Linked DNA regions of Homo sapiens. The protein of the gene in region 1 interacts with the protein of each later gene in a biochemical or structural test. Each region holds a gene or a part of one and is shown in the gene's direction. Other genes may lie near its edges.

Region 1 (7,031 bases):
AAAATTAAAAACCCTTAATAGTGGCTAATTGTGATTCTTCAAACATTACCTTTAATTCTCAATAACATTTTATCCTCTTGGGAAATTCTCATTTGATTCCCATCCAGTGAGGTAATATAACTGTATGGCATGGGTTTCACATAAATAGATTTTTAAAACACACTAAATGTAAATGCACATGGCATTTTTTTTTTACATTTTGTTATTGGTAGGGGCCCCACATTAGATGTTGACCTGATGTTTTACTCATGTAGTTTTCTAGCAGATTATTTTAAAGTCTTAATAACTTGTTTGTTCTTTATAAAGTGATCCAGAAGGGTGTTTCACTGTACTTTGCCACATATTAAATAGTAAAGAGATTTGAAATCTTGTCACAGTTTTTTGAAAACTTTCTTTTTGCAGCTGGTTATATTCTGGGCACTAAATGAAGGCGTTTCTAGGCAATTTGATTCGTTCAGAGATGGATTTGAATCAGTCTTCCCACTCAGTCATCTTCAGTACTTCTACCCGGAGGAAGTGAGTAGCTTATATCTAAAAGAAATGGTCATACCTATAATTTTAGTGGAGTGTTTCTGTGCTGCCTAGTCAAAGACCGTATTGTTGCACAAAAACAAAAAAATGGGTGTTAGATAGCAGGGGATGGATGTTTGGGAAAGACAAGGAAATTGCCTGAGCAAGGAAGAATGTTAAATAGGTGTCCCCTCTTAGATTGGGGAGCGGGTTCCACGCGTGACAGTAAGCATAGCATCTTTGTCAGCCAAGACCCTCAATGCCATTCAGTGGAGAATGGGGACTTGTGCTGTGTGTGGCATGTTCTACATGTTTCTGTACTGCTGTGGAAGCAAAGAGAGACATGGAGGGGGCTTGACTTTATTCCTTAACTAAACTTCGTTTCGATGAGACATTGTTTCACAATCAAAGTTAGTCCTTGAAGTTTTAAGAAAGTATTATAAATTATCTAATTGCCAAATACAGAGAATACTTCTGAGAATGGAAGAAATGGATTTATGTGCTTGGTTTTCTCTAGCCGCCTGTATTAGTCTGTTTTCATGCTGCTGATAAAGACATAACCGAGACTGGGCAATTTACAAAAGAAAGAGGTTTATTAGACTTAGAGTTCCACGTGGCTGGGGAGGCCTCACAATCATGGTGGAAGGTGAAAGGCACATCTCACATGGCAGCAGACAAGACGAGAGCTTGTGCGGGGAAACTCCCCTTTTTGAAACCATCAGATCTCGTGAGACATATTCACTATTATGAGAATAGCCTGGGAAAGACCTGCCCCCATGATTCAGTTACCTCCCACCAGGTCATTCCCACAGCAGGTGGGAATTGTGGGAGTTACAGTTCAAGATGAGATTTGGGGTAGGGGCACAGCCAAACCATATTACCGTCTTTAATTTCAAGTGCCAAATCTCAAAAGAACTACTCACTGGTAGTGAGATACAGAAAGCCTCTAGAATGTGTCCAGTTTCCCTCAGTTTTGAAACCTTTTTATTTATTGTTTGAATACTAGTTTTAGAGTGTATGTTCACTACTGATTAAATCTATAAATTTTTGATTAACTTAACGTCTTAATCTCAGTTATATTTGTGTCTACTTAAGCATGTAGTGTGCCTGATACTTGTAGGCACTGCTTGTCACCTGGAATAGAATCATGGTCCTCACCACTTGCTGTATAACCTTATCCAAGTTACTGTATCTGATAGGACTGTTTCATCTGTAAAATTGGAATAACCCCTATCACAGAGTAATGGAAATTAAATAGGCTGGGCACAGTGACTTAGCCTATAATCCCAGCACTTTGGGAGATGGAGGTGGGAAGATCACTTGAGCTCGGAAATTTAAGATTAGGCTGGGCAACATAGTGAGACCTTGTCTAAAATAAAAAAAATAATTAGCTGGGCGTGGTGGTATGCACCTGTAGTCTCAGCTACTTGGAAGGCTGAGGTTGGAGGATCACTTGAGCCCAGGAGATCATGACGGGAGTGAGCTGTGATTAGGCCACTACACTCCAGCCTGGGCAACAGAGCAAAGCTTTGTCTTTAAATATATAGGACCAGACAGTGAGCATTATATAATAGATATTAAATTTCATTGGCCTCAAATTGGATTTTCTCAAAGTATAAGGACATGAAAGCATTTATTGCTTTCTAATATTCATTCTATAATATCTGGGTTGGTCCCCATACAACCAACCATGTAGCGTAGACATGCCTCTCTACAAAGTGTAAAGACCTACCCATTTGCTGTGTCCTAGTTCAGCTTGCTTCTCCCACTTCTTTCTCCAGCTCAATGTTCTCTCCCTTGGCATCTGTTACTGTATACCTTTGTGTTTCTGAAAGCCAGGATTTATAAAATCTCCCTGACTAGAAGCAGATTATCCATTTAAAGCACCTAAAGTAATGAGAAGAAAGGAAAACTGAAATCAAGGGTCATCAGGTGTTTTTGGTTTGAGAGGAAGGGTTTCTCAGGAACCAAGTCCCTGCAGATGGGCAGGGTACTTAATAGCGTACAGCTAAAAAGGAAATGGAATCTCTAAATTTTATTTTATTTTATTATTATTTTTTTTTTTTTGGAAAGAGGTCCCAAGCAGAAGGTTTTAGTACTGAGACTGATACTCTTTTATGGTACACGTAGACCTTTATTTTCACTCACGTAAACAAATGTTTCCTTAGTAATTCTTTTTACCCTTATTTAAACTCACAGCTGGATCAGCTCCTTTGTGGCAGTAAAGCAGACACTTGGGATGCAAAGACACTGATGGAATGCTGTAGGCCTGATCATGGTTATACTCATGACAGGTAAGTACTGGGGTCTGCCAGTTTTTCTGTTGATTCTGAAGAATGTGGAGAGGGGTGTGTGTGTACACACACATGCGCACATGTGTAAACAACAAAAGTTGGAGTGGTTCATTTTAAAATGTGTCTACCTGTTAATGGATGCTTACTTCTGTTTTGGCCTTATTTCTCTGAAGATGGGAAATTAAGACCCAAGGGTTTCTTTCTCAAGTATTTCTGTGAAAATACTAGGGGTTGGGGAAGACAGATTTAATCTTGTTCCCCATTATTACATATAGTAAAGCAGAAATATCTGTACAGTACCAGATCAAGTCTTACTTATTACAACTGTAATCATTCCATTTGAATTCTAGTCTAGTCATAACAGAAACGAATTTAAGTACATTGTAATGGAAAATGTATGTGTAATTTAAAAGTGCTAATCTAATTTTTATGTCATGTGATGCGATGCAGTGTGATTAAAACTCTATTTTAACCTGATGAAATAATTTTGGTATATTTATTTCTGTTATAGTCGGGCTGTGAAGTTTTTGTTTGAGATTCTCAGTAGTTTTGATAATGAGCAGCAGAGGTTATTTCTCCAGTTTGTGACTGGTAGCCCAAGATTGCCTGTTGGAGGTGGGTACGATGTTGATGTTTAGCATTTATTCTACCTATGGGTGGGTTTGTGAGTGTGAAACTTCAGTACCATCAGCAGGAGATTCTTTATCTCACTTGCAGTGCCTCTTAGTTATTCCAGTATCATTATAGTACATTGAGACCACTAGCAGGGAAATCCATGGGGATTGTCTTAAACATATTGAAGTAGGATTACTAATGCACATGTAATGCTGGTTAGATAAAATTCCAGGCCATTTGTACATTCTAAACTCTTAGTTGACTTAGATGAGAATGGATTCTAAAATCTGGTTTTTCAGATTGAATCCTAATGTAAGTTAAATTGGTATTCTGTTGTTTTTGTTTTGTTTTTTGAGACAGGATCTCACTCTTGTCACCCAGGCTGAAGTGCAGTGGCGTGATCTTGGCTCACTGCAACCTCTGCCTCCTGGGCTCAGGCGAGATCCTCCTGCTTCAGCCTCCTGTGTAGCTGGGACTACAGGCACAACACAGCACCATGTCTGGCTAATTTTTGTATTTTTGTAGAGATAGGGTTTCTCCATGTTTCCCAGGCTGGTCTGAAACTCTCAAGCGACTGGCTCACCTCGGCCTCCCAGAGTGCTGGGATTACGGGCGTGAACCACTGTGGGTATTCCATTTTAAAAATCAGAAGACATAAAGAACTGTTGCCTCCATGTTATACAGCGAGTTTTTAAATGATAAATTAAAGCAGGTTCCTTGCACTTAATGTATATTGAATGTGCAATTGCCAAGCAAGAAAGAATATCTTGTGTGTAATATTGTACGGCAAAGCAGTGGAATGTTTTCTGATAGCTGATGTTTTTTAAAAACTTAAGTTCCTTGTCTTTCTTTTTCTCTTAATCAGGATTCCGGAGTTTGAATCCACCTTTGACAATTGTCCGAAAGACGTTTGAATCAACAGAAAACCCAGATGACTTCTTGCCCTCTGTAATGACTTGTGTGAACTATCTTAAGTTGCCGGACTATTCAAGCATTGAGATAATGCGTGAAAAACTGTTGATAGCAGCAAGAGAAGGGCAGCAGTCGTTCCATCTTTCCTGATCATAGCAAGAAATGCAGTGTCTGCCTGTTACAGCAAAAGAAACAAATCATGATTTCTTTTCTAATGTTATCACCTGAGTCAAGGAAACATGTTACGCCTTCTTGTTGTAGGAAAAACGGCTTGCAGATTATAAAGAGACATTTGGTTGATATTCATTAATGGCCCCATGGACTTAAAGTGATCAGGCCCTAAAACGTTGTTGTGATGAGGTTTCTTTAGCAAGTTCTTGTTTAAATTATCATTTATTTGATGAGTGAAGTTTTTAACATGCTTTGCTGTGTGAAATTTAAAAAAGGGATGTTTTTCCAGGCTGGAACAATAAATGTGGCTGTGCAGTTTAATTCTGGGCTGTGTGTATCCATCTAGCTAAGTCTGCAGTTTTCTTTCCTCCAAAGACAACTCTTGTACATAAGTACAGAAATTTAAGCTCACATGTATTTGACAAATATAGTTTAGTAGACTAGCTCTATGTGCTTTTCACTTTCCTCTGATTTTCTCTCCCTGATTCATTATTATCTGTGCAGCTCACAGTTTTTTTTTTGTATACAACTCACAGTTCTCAAATTTTCGTTACCCATGGGCTTCTGTTGTCCCATGTTCTCTCCAGTTAAGATCTAATTTAAAATTCATTGGATTGAAATTTATTGAATATAATTCAGCTTTTGTAACTAGGTAGACTTTTCTTATAGTTTAGTTTTAATATAGTTTAGGGTATTACTGGCTTTTTCCCAGGTGACACACTAAGGACTGTTTACATGGCAATTCCAGCAGCAACAGCCTCTGGAATGAGACAAGGAAAGCTCATTTGTTTCTTTTATGAAGGTTAAGAAGTCTACAGCTTGGGCTGGCCGGTATTTATTATTCTGTGGCCAGAGGATTTTAAATTAATGTAAATTTTTTAAACAAAATAAGCAGTTTTCCTTCCCTGTTGGAGTAAAAAAATTTTTTTCCCTTTGTTGTTTTACGTTTTTGTTCATAGTCTTCTTTATTCCACGCTCCTCTTCCCCTTCTCCCAGTGCTGACTTGGGACAAAACAGTTCAGCCTTTGTCTCGACGCAGATAAAAGCACCTGTAAGCAATGCTGTCCAGTCATTTTATGTGCTGATTTCTCAAATCTGCAATAATCCATCAGGTTAATGTTTTTACCTGAAAATAAAGAAAGTTTGCTTCACCTTTTTGTTTATAGTTTTGTGCTGTATGCATAACTTTCAATTGTATAGATGTATTTCAATGCAAGGAAATCCACATATCTCCATGATTCGGGTCATGGCTGATTTTGCTATTCAAACAATTTATAATAGCAACTTGAAGAAACTAAAATGTGAAGAGAAAATGGGAGGAGATTCCTTCCTAAGGTCCAAAACTAGGCCTGTGGCATAAATTTGAAGGAATTTTCCATAATTCATCTCCTTGAAAATAAGAGATGAGCTAGTTTTTTTTTTTAATTGAACTTTGAGAAATCAATTTTTTTGACTGTTCTGTAAGTTTTAATTAATTGACACAAAAGCCCTTTTCCCTATCCCACCACCCAAAAGAAACTCAGTGGCTTGTTTGACATAGATTGCTGTGTCAATTTACACTTAAATGGCCTTATATGGAAATGTCCCCTCCTGAGAGTTCACTTGGGCAGTGACCCCATTAAGTGGAAGGGAACTGTCAGAGGAGTTGGGGGCAGAGAATTCTCTCCCTGTCTCTGCAGAGACTGACAAGTGAATGGCTTTTCCCTGAAATCCAAGAAGGGAATTGTGTTTCTGCAGTTTTCACCACTAACAGCACAGTTGCTGAGCAGCTTCATCAAGTGAAGTTAAAGACTGAAACAATTTGTTTTCAACTGTTCTGATATCTTCCTGCAAATTAAGCACAAGGATTTTTGTGTGAACATAGCATTTTGTTCCTGATTTTTAAAGGGTTCTGTTAAAATTTAGACATGTATAAACAAAATAATGTTTCATCTGTACTTGACATTTTATCCATGTTGCAGCCCTGGCAAATTTGGCCTCATTGATTCCAGCATCTAATAAGTATATATGATGATTTTGACTCAAACTCTAAAGTCTTGAGTGTTTCAAAGTCAGTCGTTACCTGTTTAAAAGCCTCAGCCTTTAGCTTATTCCTCCTTCAATACACGGGACCTTTGGTTAATTTGGGGCAGGAAAACTCTTAAAGTAATCTCTCTTGGCAGAGGCCTTATTGCACCAGAGGGAAAAAGTATATACTTCATTTGCTGTTACTCCAGTTATGCCTTAAATTCATTTGCTTGGTAATCCTATCAACGAGCACTAACTTCTTAGTATACTTTAAACACTTAGTTGGGTAACAACTGAGATTTTGTTGTCCTTTATTTTTTGCTGAGATGGAGTCAGTCAGATGTTAGTCATAGCTAACACCGAATTTGTGTTGTCATTTAGACAGTTACTGATTCGATCTGCTTTATATATGAGAACGTATTTTTAACTATTCCAAGAAGGAAGAGGTAGCTAAATGTAATCCCCTCTTCCTATCCCCCCAGAAAACTGAACTGTAAGTTCTAGGTAGACTAATTGGGAGCA
Region 2 (5,813 bases), on another chromosome or scaffold:
ACCCCAAAAGGAAAACCCTTAAAGCAGTCGCTGTCTAGACCCCCTTGCCCCAGCCCCTGGCAACCACAAATCTGCTGTCTCTCTTTTCCTATTTTTGGATTTACCTATTCACCTCTCCGGGATATTTCATATAAACGGACTTATACAGTGTGTAACCTTCTATGTCTGGCTTCCTTCACTTAGCATCATGTTTCAAGGTTCATTTGTGTTGTAGAATGTATCAGTATTTCATTCCTTTTTAAGGCTGAATAATATTTCATTGTATGGATATACCACCATTTGTTTATCCTCATCCATTGATAGACATTTGGGTTGTCTCCAGCCTTTGGCTCTTGCAAATAGTGCTGCTATGAACATTTGTGTAAAAGTATTTAAACACCTGTTTTCAGTTACTTTGGGTCTACACTTGGGAGTGGGATTGTTGGTCATGTGGTAATTCCATGTTTAACTTTTTGAGGGATGCCAGAATGTTTTCTACAGCTGCCGCCCATTTGACATTCCCACTGGCAATGTATAAGGTTTAAGTTTCCATTCTTTTTCATTTTTTTTCTTTGGTTTAGTTTATATTCTTTCCATCATGAAGTTTAAAAATTAAACATGTTAATTTGTTTTTGTTTCTTAAATACTCATCCTAGTGGGAGTGACGTGGTATTTCATTGCGGTTTTGATTTGTATTTCCCTAATGTCAAATACCATTGGACACCTTTTCATGTGCTTGCTGGCCATTTTTATATTTTCTTGGGAGCAATGTCTATTCATGTTCTTTGCCCATTTTTTAATTGGGTTGTTTGTGTTTTTGTTGTTGAGTTGGAAGAGTTCTTTTTTTCTTTTTCTTTTTTTTTTTTTTTTTTTGAGATGGAGTCTCCCTCTGTTGCCCAGGCTGGAGTGCAGTGGTGCGATCTCAGCCTACTGCAACCTCCACCTCCCAGATTCAAGCAATTCTCTTGCCTCAGCCTCCCAAATAGCTGGGACTACAGGCGTGCACCATCACGCCTGGCTAATTTTTTTTGTATTTTTAGTAGAGACGGGGTTTCACCATGTTAGCCAGGATGGTCTCGATCTCCTGACCTCATGATCTGCCTGCCTTGGCCTCCCAAAGTGCTGGGATTACAGGCGTGAGCCACCGCGCCCAACCAGAAGAGTTCTTTATGTATTCTGGATGCTAGGTCATATCAGATGATACATGTATCATTGGATATATGATTTGCAGATATTCTTGTGTTAGTCCATTGCATCACTATACAGAAATACCCAAGGCTAGGTACTTTATGAAGAAAAGAGGTTTAGGCCGAGCACAGTGGCTCACGCCTGTAATCCCACCACTTTGGGAGGCCAAGGTGGGCAGATCACTTGAGGTCAGGAGATCGAGACCAGCCTGGCCAACATGGCAAAACCCTGTCTCTACTAAAAATACAAAAAAATTAGCCAGCCGTGGTGGCGCACACCTGAAATCCCAGCTACTCAGGAGGTGGAGGCTTCAGTGAGCCGAGAGCGTGCCTCTGCACTCCAGCCTGGGTGACAAAGCGAGACTCCGTCTCAAAAATTAAAATTAAAATTAACTGGGCATAGTGGCATGCACCTGTAGTCCCAGCTACTTGGGTGGCTAAGGTGAGAGGATTGCTTGAGCCCAGGAGTTTGAGGCTGCAGTGAGCCATGATTGCACCACTGCACTCCAGCCTGAGTGACAGAATGAGACTCTGTCTCAAAATATATATATATATTTATAGTAAAACATATATGGCAAAAACACTGGCCACTTGTTTTGCGATGGTGATACAAATACAAATATATATCATCACTAAGCAAGTGGCCAGTGTTTTTGCCATATATGTTTTACTATAAATACAAACTACAGCATACTTTACTGTTTGGCATGGCAGTGATTTTTATGAATTAGGCACCTGTGAGGTAGATGTTACTCTGCCCATTTTACACTCAAAGAACCTGGGCTTAGGAGGGTTCAGATTTGCCTACGACTGCACAGCTGGTAGGTGGTAGAGCCAGAATTCAAGTTCAGATTTGTCTGGGTCCACGGTGGGCGCCTGACCTCCACTCCACAACTTCCCTTCCTGGGGACATAAATCGTGTCTGTTCCCAGGCCTATTCATCAGTTCACCAGGGTGGTCTAACGTCCATGGAGCCCCTGACATGTGCTAGTGCTGAACTAAATGAGCTTGAAGAAGCTTGAAAGTGAACAGGAGAAGGCTCCTCTAGAGTATGAACAATAGTGGATTGTTTTTACCATGCTTACCTTTGTGGAAGAGAGCTGAAATTTTCACCTCTTCTTTCTTATAGGCTGCCAGGGCACAGTGCCCCCCAAGGACTGAAATAGACTAGATTTCCTTCTCTTTTTAATGTTTAAACTTTAAAAGAAATGCGTGCTAGCTGTAAAAATTCAAAAAAAAAGCCCGTCTGCCTCAGTCCTGCAGCCCTCTCCAGAGGGAGTGACCTCGTACAGTTTGGCACATATTATTCCAGTCTTTATCCATTTGTAAGCATAAAAAGTGCATACTTTTATGAGGCTATAAATGCATAAAGACGGATATATAAAATATATAAGTGTATATATAATTTTAGGGCTTTTTTAGTGGGGGAAAATCCACAAATGGATAATACTTTGGATATTTTCTGCAGCTCGCTTTTTTCCACCTGACGTACATTTACGTCTCACATTGCCATTCCTCCTTTGCAGAGATCCTACAGTAAGGAATTGTTTGAAGAAGTTATTTCAAAGATGCGGAAGGCAGGGATCAAATCCACAATAGCAATAGAAAAATTTAAGCTGCTCGCCGAGAAAGTGGAGGAGATAGTGGCCAAGAACGCACGCGCAGAAATCGACTACAGCGACGCTCCTGATGAGTTCAGAGGCAAGTGGACTCGTCGTTTTCATGCTGATTTCTTTTGAGTTAACTGGAAATCGATAACATTACAAGAGGACGTCCTGTGCAATTAATTTTTTAATGGTGTGCTAGAGCTGCTTTTTGAGACAATCTGTCTTAAATTACATTTGCCTATTTTTAGCTCATATTGTAAATTGAGAGGAAGAAACATCCTTAGCTTAGCCTGACTTAAAGCCAGATAACAACCCTGAAGATTCTAAGGGCAGGGCTGCCTTTGCAAGTGGGGATTCACATTTTCAAAGAATTCCCAGAAGTCCTAAGACAAAGAATTCCAGCCTGCCGTCCTCGCCACGGAGCCTGTGGGGCCTGCTGCTGGGTCTGTCCCAGGCTTTCTTCTCTGTTCCCTCCCCCCAGCAGTAGCTGACAAAGAAGCGCCTTCCCCTTACAAAAGGCAATGTATATGCCTTTATTGAAGGCTGATTTCCTTCTAAACCTGGGGGCCTCACAGGGGCCCTTTGATTGCTGTTCCTTTGGATAGATTTTTCGCTGGTAGAACGGGCTTTGTTTTCTTTTTCAGTCGTGGGCTCTCAGTAGATTAGAGTTTGCTTTGCTTTGTCCCCGCAGACCCTCTGATGGACACCCTCATGACAGACCCCGTGCGGCTGCCCTCTGGCACCATCATGGACCGCTCCATCATCCTGCGGCACCTGCTCAACTCCCCCACGGACCCCTTCAACCGGCAGACGCTGACAGAGAGCATGCTGGAACCAGGTAGAGGAGGGTGCAGTTTGAGGTGCAGCGCTGGCGTCAGTACCAAGAGATAAAGCCCAAGTCACATATTGGAGATGAAGCAGAAGGGAAATTTATCAAATGCAGAAACTACCTACTTTATGACACTCTGTAGCAAAGACCCAAAACACTCTTGGCCCTTTTTCCCTGCAGACATCCAGTCCCTCCCTCTCATGTCCCAGTCCTTCTGGAGTCTTCGGCTCAATGAGGGAAAGAATGGCCTTTTCTTCCCATTTATACAGAGCGACAAGCATCCTCTCTCAGGAAGAGCCCTCCCATCTGGGGCATTAATCCTCCTTTTTTTCTTTTCTCAGTGCCAGAACTGAAAGAGCAGATTCAGGCGTGGATGAGAGAGAAACAGAACAGCGATCACTAAACCGTTCCGCCGCCCACCCTCTGCTAGACACAGCCAAGGCCAACGAGGCAAGCAGAAGCAGCGGCCGCAGCGAAGCTGCCGTTCATGTGTTGGAGGCCAAATGTGGCAAACCAACCCCAGGCCCACCCAGAGCGAGCAAACGCTGAGACCTGAAAGGACATGGATGAGAAGAGGAGCCCGCTTCCTGTACATATATTTAAGTGACAAACACGGTCAAAAGCTTAAGGGACAGGTTTTATGGTTGCTTGTGTAATAAAGCATGTCCTTCGTATGTCACAGTTTGGGGCAACGGAAGTCTTTTAGTGATGGCTAATGGGTCTGGGCAGCATCCCTTCATGAATTTTTTTTTAATCCAATATCCGTTGATTTGATTGTGATTAGAGAACCTTGGACATTTTGCTGCTAAAGAATCTTTTTTCCCCTCTCCCCCTTCCTGACCCTACTTGCACTGCTGTGGATTTTTTTAAGAGAAGCAAAAACAAAAGTAAACTCCTTTCCCTGGCCCTCCAAACATATATTCTGTGAGATAACTGTGCCTGCTACCAAGTGTTAATCCTGGGATCGTATTTTTATATCATATTCACATATTTGTTTTTTTAATTGGTGTTAGATGACATGATTAATAAAAAAGGCAAGATATTTTCAGAATTTGAATTTCAGTTTTTTTTTTCTTTTGAAATGTCCCTTTAAGATTTTTTTATTCTAAACAAAATAAAGAAAATCCTGCTGCTCTGGTCCTTGTGATAAGCCTCTCTTCGGCATCTGAGGAGCAGCTGCAGCAAAATCTAGGGGTGTAAGTGTATCAGGACTTATGTGACTTATATTTTGGGGAGATGAGGGTTGGGTTTTTTTTTTAATGCTACGTGACAGTTTGAAACCTTCACAGTTATCCTCTGGGGGTAAATCAATTCTTCAACCCTTGGGTGTGTGAGTTTGAGGCAGGGTCATTTGTGTGATGTGTTTGGCCTTACCAAAGCAAAAGAGGGTGCAAGAATGTGGGAGTATGTCTGCCGGTTTCAACACACACAGACAAACACAGCCACACGCGCACACAAGTATAAGACTTTTTGTATTACTGCTCCCTACTTAACATACTTGAATTCTCAAATTTCCTTTGGGGTAAAAAAAAAAAAAGGATTTGAAACCATAAAGTGTTCTGAAGAAATTAAGTCTATAAAAAGCATACTTTCTTTTTTCTTTTCCTTTTTTCCCTCCACAGACAATGTCCTCTGTTCAATTCCTAACGCAAACTACAATAAATGGTGACACACGTTCAGAAGAAATCTTCTTTGAGTCTCTTCTCTTTTGTGGAAAAAAAAAAAGGGCAGGGCGGGTGGGTAAACAAGAGCCAAGTGAGTTTGCATGTGGTGAATGATCTTTCCTGGATCCAATTAGGAGCTGCTATTTTTAAAAGAAAACTTTCTTATTCATGTCAGTCTCGACATTTGGTTCTCATTTCACTGTTTGCTGATTTGAGGGGGTAAGCTTTGTCATATTCAGTCTTCTGCCTTTCTTGAGTTTCTTCTGCTTTATCTCAAGTATCTTCCCTGACCTTCAAGATTCTTCCTCAGGCCGGGCCCGGTGGCTCACGCCTGTAATCCCAGCACTTTGGGAGGCTGAGGCGGATGGATCACCTGACGTCAGGAATTCGAGACCAGCCTGGCCAGCATGGTGAAACCCCATCTCTACTAAAAATACAAAAAATTAGCCGGGCGTAGTGGCAGCGCCTGTAGTCCCAGCTACTCGGGAGGCTGAGACAGGAGAATTGCTTGAACCTGGGAGGTGGAGGTTGCAGTGAGCCGAGATGA
Region 3 (7,031 bases), on another chromosome or scaffold:
ATTATAAACCAATCAGAAGTTTGTATTTGATTACAATTTGAGAATTCAAAGAACATATCTGAAGAAATAGCACTGAAAATAAAGATGGGCGAATTCTTAATACTGTGTAAGTAAATGTTTCATGTTCCTTTGTTAGATCCCAAGCAGTATTGAAGATATATTTAATGATGATCGCTGCATAAATATCACCAAACAGGTAACAACAACAAAAGTAAAAACATTGCTGCTAAAACTTTGGGTCAAAGTAAAACGCCACTTAATGTTAATTTTTTCTTATTCTTTTAGACTCCATCATTTTGGATTTTAGCTCGTGCCTTAAAGGAATTTGTGGCCAAAGAGGGTCAAGGAAATTTACCTGTTCGAGGCACAATTCCTGATATGATTGCAGATTCAGGCAAATATATAAAACTGCAAAACGTGTATGTCACTGTTTTCAAACTATGTAATAGAAAAAGTCTGATTATATTAGAGATAAACATTTTATCATCCTGTCAGAAATCAAATGAAAGTTTATTACAACCTCATTGCTTATAAATAAACTAGGCCAGCTGCAGTGGCTCATGCCTGTAATCCCAACACTTTGGGAGGCCAAGGTGGGAGAATTGCTTGAGTCCAGGAGTTTGAGACCATCGTGGGCAACATAGTGAGACTTCCATCTCTACAAATTGAAAAATTAGGTGGGCATGGTAGTGTTCGCCTTTAATCTCAACTACTCAGGAGGCTGAGGCAGAAGGATCTCTTGAGCTCAGGAGTTTGAGGCTGCAGTGAGCCATGATCATGCCACTTCACTTCAGCCTGGGTGACAGAGCAAGACCCTGTTTCAAATAAATAAGTAAAAATAAGCTGAAGAACTTAGACCAGGCTGGGCGCAGTGGCTCACACCTGTAATCCCAGCGCTTTGGGAGGCCGAGGCAGGCGGATCACGAGGTCAGGAGATTGAGACCATCCTGACTAACACGGTGAAACCCTGTCTCTACTAAAAATACAAAAAAATTAGCCGGGCGTGGTGGCAGGCGCCTGTAGTCCCAGCTACCCGGGAGGCTGAGGCAGGAGAATAGCGTGAACCCGGGAGGCGGAGCTTGCAGTGAGCGGAGATCGCACCACTGCACTCCAGCCTGGGCGACAGAGTGAGACTCTGTCTCAAAAAAAAAAAAAAAGAACTTAGGCCGGGCGTGGTGGCTCACGCCTGTAATCCCACCACTTCGGGAGGCCGAGACGGGTGGATCACAAGGTCAGAAGATCAAGACCATCCTGGCCAACATGGTGAAACCCTGTCTCTACTAAAAAAATACAAAAAATTAGCCAGGTGTGGTGGTGCGCACCTGTAGTCCCAGCTATTCGGGAGGCTGAGGCAGGGGAATCGCTTGAACCCAGGAGACGGAGGTTGCAGTGAGCCAAGATCGTGCCACTGCACTCCAGCCTGGAGACAGAGCAAGAGTCCGTCTCAAAAAAAAAAAAAAAAAAAAAAAGAACTTAGGGGGCAATTCTTGTTAAGCTCAAAGCAAAATTGAATGGGAAATACAGAATTACCACATACGCCTAGGAGGCAGAGTTTTTTTTCATACTTCATGATAAACTTAATATTTGATCCCTTAACTCTGTGCTATGAACTATATGTATTAAGTAATTTAACACACACACAAGGTTCACAACGACCTTATGAGAGAGAGAGAGACTGTTACCGGCCCCATTTTACACATGAAGAAACTAAGGTATTGAAAAGGTTACTTATACAAGGTCAGATAGCTGGTAAATGGCAGAACCAAGATTTGAACCCCAGGAAACCCAGTACCAGAGCCTGTATGCTTAGCTATGGCCCTATACTACCTTGTATTTGTAACTTAAAACCATGAAGGTTTGATGAATTTTTTATCTTAATGTTTCATAAGTTATAGTCTATGACTATAGCTAGACATCTTGCTATCCAGGTATCACTAGCCTGAACCCAGATAGACTATCACAGGGATGGGTCTCAATGAATATGACCCTCGTATAGTTAGGGCATGGTGCAAAGAATCCAGGTCTGCTGGCTCGGTTTCTTTGGGGTCCAAGTAATGTCACACAGAGATGATCTCTCTTCCCCAGACAGATTTCACTCTTTATCATGTCACCATTGAACGAATCTTGGTTTGTTGTCCTAGCCTAAGAGTTCAACTACTTAAAACTTGGGGAAGGTCAATTGAGGATAGAAAGAAGTATGACCTTACATGGGAGGTAGTCAGCCTGAACACTGATGATTTTTAGAGGGTGAAAGGTAAATAGACGTAAAGAAAACTTTTATGGCCGGATGCAGTGGCTCACACCTGTATTCCCAGCACTTTGGGAGGCCAAAGCGGGTGGTGAAATGTGCCACAAGGGATGTTCACAGTTGTTTTAAATGGTTGAAATTTTACGTTTTCCATGGTCTGTCTCAGTGGTATAGATACAGATAATAATTGGGTAAGGGTTTTTTTTTCCTCTCATAATAAATACAGAGTATTTTAAAACAATCAGAGGTAGAGCATGTTTATCTATGGCAATGCTAAAAAGGTATGAAGGTCAGTTAATTGAAAATTGTCATTAATACAGTATTTTCAGTTTCTAAATCACTTGAACCCAGGAGTTCAAGACCAGCCTGGGCAACATGGTGAAACTCCGTCTCTACAAAAAAGACAAAAATTAGTCGGGCATGGTAGCGTGTGCCTGAATTCCCAGCTACTTGGGAAGCTGAGGTGGGAGGATCAGTTGAGCGTGGGAAGTTGAGGCTGCAGTGAGCCAGGACTGCGCCACTGTACTCCAGCCTGGGTGGCAGAGCGAGATCCTGTCTCAAAAAACAAAGAAGTTTTACATTGGAGATGAACAGTTTTAATGTATTTAACTTTCCTTGGACTTGACTTCCAGGAGATAAGTCATGTTCTTCAGTAATGTATTTTTTCAGGTCCTCTGTCACAGAAGCCGAAATCATAGATCCCTCTAGGGGAGCAGTTTTTAAGTTGGGTGCTGTTAGAGGGACCCTGGGTTTTAGTGGGCACTGAGAGTCCGTCACTAACACTGGAAAGATTCCCAGCTACTCATGGTGCTGTTGATAGCATTTCCCTGGCATTTTCACATTTCATACATTGTCAGACCTGTGTTTTTTCATGAAAAGGAAAGAAAATTTTTGTTCATGGTAACAATTTAAATTTTGCTAATTTAAAAATTTGTTAGTAATTGCTTTTTATTCTTTTTTAGTTACCGTGAAAAAGCAAAGAAAGATGCTGCCGCTGTGGGTAATCATGTTGCCAAATTGCTGCAGTCCATTGGCCAGGTAAGCTACTGGGCACACTGTGCCCATACAGGCCTCAGCACGTAACTCCAGCCAGAAAGGGTTTAGAGACAGAGGGTGTGGCACTGCCTCTGTGCTTCTTTAGAGGGAGCTGTCATTTCCCTGCCTAATGGGATAGCTTGTGATAAGGAAACAAGATATTTTTAAAGTGCTCTCCCAGCTCTTGGAGAAAGCCTTCCCATCTCACAGTGATTGGCTTTGTGCCGCACCCTTTGTTAATCTTCTCTTTTAAACTGGAACAGAATCTGTATTTATCTCTTTACAGGCACCAGAGTCCATTTCAGAGAAAGAATTAAAATTACTCTGTAAGTCCCCTTGAATTAATTTCCTTATTTTGCTTGATAGAAATGTGCCACAGGGAATGTTCCCAGGTATTTTGAATGGTTGAAATTTTAAGTTTTCCATGGCCTCAGTGATATAGATATAGATAATTATTGGGTAAGGTTTTTTTTTTCCTCTCATAATACAATACATGGCGAGTATTTTAAGACTGAATCAGAGGTAGAACATGTTTATCTGTGGCAATGCTAAAAAGGCTTGACGGTCAGTTAATTGAAAATTGCCATTAATACAGGATTTTCAGTTTTTAAATTTTAAGTAATTTAGGAAGTTTTTTTGTCTGAAGACTTTGGGTGTGAAGTCTTGAGTCACATGTACATTGACAATATTGGTTTAAATACTCATTTTGATCTGTGTTAAATGACTGTAATGGAGTTAAGAATTTTGCCATCTAGTTTCGGAGTGGTTAGGTTCGTAGGAGTCTTCTCAGTAACTCCTCAGTAGGCCAAAAGCATTTTCTTTTATTTAAGAGTCAGTTTCAAAATACCCAATCTGTTGTGCATGCCATCTGAAGATTTCTCCCTGTAGCTACTGCTCCTACGTCCTGTGGAAGTTTATATTTTGCATGCTCCCCATCCTTAAAATAGATTTATCCAAGCTTTCCATTTTATGACTTCTCCACAATGTCTGTTTAGGCTCGGTTTTAATGTTTTCTGCCACTACTAATCTTGCACCTTGTTTGTTCTATTAGACTAATCTTGAATTAGCGTTTGTTGTATTAGATTATATAATACTAGATCACAAGTTTGATGCTGGGTATTTGAACATTTATTATTCTGTTCTACTTTGGGGCGTTTTTGAAAATTTCAATAATACAAAGCTTAAAGTCATTACATATATCAAGAGTACAATTCATAAACCTCTCTCCTTTAGGACTACTTATCCATAATAATGATGAAAACTATTATTTTTAGAGCCATATCAGGCATTGTGCTAGAGATGCACTTTATACAGATGTCACATTTAATCTGTAGAACAATTCTCAAAGGTAAACAGTATCATCCCCATTTTACACTTGAAAACTGAGGTTCAGAGAGGCCATCACCTTACTTGCTTCTGAACTGGTTGTAGTGCCAGGGATATAAATTTAAGGTGATTCATGTTCTAGTGCTTTCTCTGCTATTAGAACCAAGGAGAAAACATTTCTTCACATTCTCATGTCTGAGAAGGGTATACACATAATTCTCTGTTCTTAAAGTCACCTGTGATTCATAATATTCACCAGTCACAGTCATTACTTCCAGAATATCTTTCCTCTGTTCAGGCAGCAATTCTGCATTTCTTCGAGTGGTAAGATGTCGATCCTTAGCTGAAGAATATGGTTTGGATACAATTAACAAGGATGAAATTAGTAAGTATAATAGCCTTCTGATTCTGGGTTAATTTTAATTAATTTAAAAGATATAAATATTTTGTGTATAATAGTGTTGAGTATATGGTGATGATATTAAAGATAACGTAAACATATTCTAATTTTATTCTAAGCTTATCTAGGTAATTATAATTTATATATTATATGAAACTTAATGTATGCATAAAGTCATATTTAGGTCACTGAGTCCATTGTGTGATATGTATGAGTTAAAGTCAGTATGTTACTACTTCAGTAGAGATTGTGTGACTCCAGTTAATAGTCCTGAAACTCAAGTATATAGTAAATTCAGCCCTTCATTGTTTGTTACATTGCAAATTAACCAAATTAAACTGAAATTTTTTTTCCTTTCAGTTTCTAGCATGGACAATCCAGATAATGAAATAGTGTTGTACTTAATGTTACGGGCTGTTGATAGATTTCATAAACAACAGGGTAGATATCCAGGTAAGAATAGCAATTGAATTACCAGATATAATAAGATCTTCAATAAAACATTTAAATTGAAAGTGTTCTCAGGGTATTTATAATAGTGTTGCTTGAATTTCACATTGTAAACAGATTACACCCCAAACGTTCCCCAGTGAAGAACCACCTTTTGTTTTTTAAGTTTAACTATTTGCAAAATAGTGTTCGATTCTAAACTATTACAGGGGGATGTTGGTTGAATATGTATAGAAGAAAACTTTTTTCTGTCATTTTCCATAGTTTGTTACTAAGACTCACACTGAGTTTAATTTAGTGGAATAGGAAAGCCACAAGAAATATGCTGGCCAGGCATAGTACGGTGGCTCACGTCTGTAATGCCAGCACTTTGGGAGACTGATTCAGGCAGATTGCTTGAGCCCAGGAGTTGGAGACCAGCGTGGGCAACATGGTGGAACCCCATCTCTACTGAAGATACAAAAAATTAGCCAGACATGGTGGTGTGCACTTGTAGACTCAGCTACTCGGGAGGATCACCTGAGCCTGGGAAGTTGGGGCTACAGTGAGTTGTGATTGTGCCACTAAACTCCAGCCTGGGTGACTGTGGTGAGACTGTCTCAAAAAAAAAAAAAAGTATGCTACTAATTTCTGAACTCAATAACTCTGAAGATGTAGGAATTTCTTTGTTTAGTTATCTACTTTTTATCTTCAGCAAATGTAGTCATTGGAGAATTGGCATAATCTCAAAGATCTGAGGTTGCTCAGAATATTTTTCTTTGGGATGATAATTTTAATTGTGCAGGATTATTGCATAGCAACACATTCTAGGGGTATCATAAAACCTGCTGCTCCATCTGATACAGTGTGTCTCCAGAGTTTATAGTCTTTTTTTTTTTTCTTTTGAGACGGAGTCTCGCTCTGTCGCCCAGGCTGGAGTGCAGTGGCGTGATCTCAGCTCACTGCAACCTCCGCCTCCTGGGTTTAAGCAGTTTTCCTGCCTCAGCCTCCCGAGTAGCTGGGACTATAGGCGCCCGCCACCTCGCCCAGCTAATTTTTGTATTTTTAGTAGAAACAGGGTTTCTCCGTGTTGGCCAGGCTGGTCTCGAACTCCTGACCTCAAGTGATCCTCCTGTGTTGGCCTCCCAAAGTGCAGGGATTACACGCATGAGCCACTGCGCTGCCCAGAGTTTATAGTCCTAACAAGCAAGCTTACTAGAAGAAAAAAAAAGAATAAACACCAAATATGTATTGCTTTATTTGTATTATTTGATTAGTATTTATTTCAGTTATCTGTTGCATAACAAACCACTTCAAAACTTAGTGGTTTAAAACAATAAATAGTGTCGTGATTTTGTGGGTTGCCTGGTCTCAGGCAGTTCTCCTTGGGGAGGCATGCAGTTGCTTGAGCCTGGGGGTGGAGTCATTCTGAAGGCTTGACTGACTGAGTTAGACATGCAAGAAGACATTTTTACTCATGTAACTAGCACCTTAGTCAGAACAGTGGGAATAGCTGGCGGCTGGTCAGGTATCTCTTCACGTGGCTAGCTTGGACTTCCTTTTGGCATGTCAGTTGGCTTCTGCAGTTAACAT

What was found. The genes of interacting proteins can lie anywhere in the genome.
Region 2: the proteins of TRIP12 (region 1) and UBE4B form a complex in vitro, tested with the Homo sapiens proteins (one study listed by BioGRID).
Region 3: of the proteins of TRIP12 (region 1) and NAE1, one has a biochemical effect on the other in vitro, tested with the Homo sapiens proteins (one study listed by BioGRID).

What each region holds. Positions count from the first base shown.
Region 1 is NC_000002.12:229,765,004-229,772,034, reverse strand, and holds part of TRIP12 (E3 ubiquitin-protein ligase TRIP12), read left to right. Parts: intron 1-402; coding exon 403-516; intron 517-2,709; coding exon 2,710-2,804; intron 2,805-3,315; coding exon 3,316-3,419; intron 3,420-4,284; coding exon 4,285-4,481; 3' UTR 4,482-7,031. UniProt on the Homo sapiens protein: E3 ubiquitin-protein ligase involved in ubiquitin fusion degradation (UFD) pathway and regulation of DNA repair.
Region 2 is NC_000001.11:10,175,952-10,181,764, forward strand, and holds the end of UBE4B (ubiquitin conjugation factor E4 B), read left to right. Parts: intron 1-2,692; coding exon 2,693-2,867; intron 2,868-3,464; coding exon 3,465-3,611; intron 3,612-3,943; coding exon 3,944-4,005; 3' UTR 4,006-5,288; downstream 5,289-5,813. UniProt on the Homo sapiens protein: Ubiquitin-protein ligase that probably functions as an E3 ligase in conjunction with specific E1 and E2 ligases. May also function as an E4 ligase mediating the assembly of polyubiquitin chains on substrates ubiquitinated by another E3 ubiquitin ligase.
Region 3 is NC_000016.10:66,806,952-66,813,982, reverse strand, and holds part of NAE1 (NEDD8-activating enzyme E1 regulatory subunit), read left to right. Parts: intron 1-136; coding exon 137-196; intron 197-285; coding exon 286-419; intron 420-3,210; coding exon 3,211-3,286; intron 3,287-3,569; coding exon 3,570-3,609; intron 3,610-4,907; coding exon 4,908-4,994; intron 4,995-5,369; coding exon 5,370-5,462; intron 5,463-7,031. UniProt on the Homo sapiens protein: Regulatory subunit of the dimeric UBA3-NAE1 E1 enzyme. E1 activates NEDD8 by first adenylating its C-terminal glycine residue with ATP, thereafter linking this residue to the side chain of the catalytic cysteine, yielding a NEDD8-UBA3 thioester and free AMP.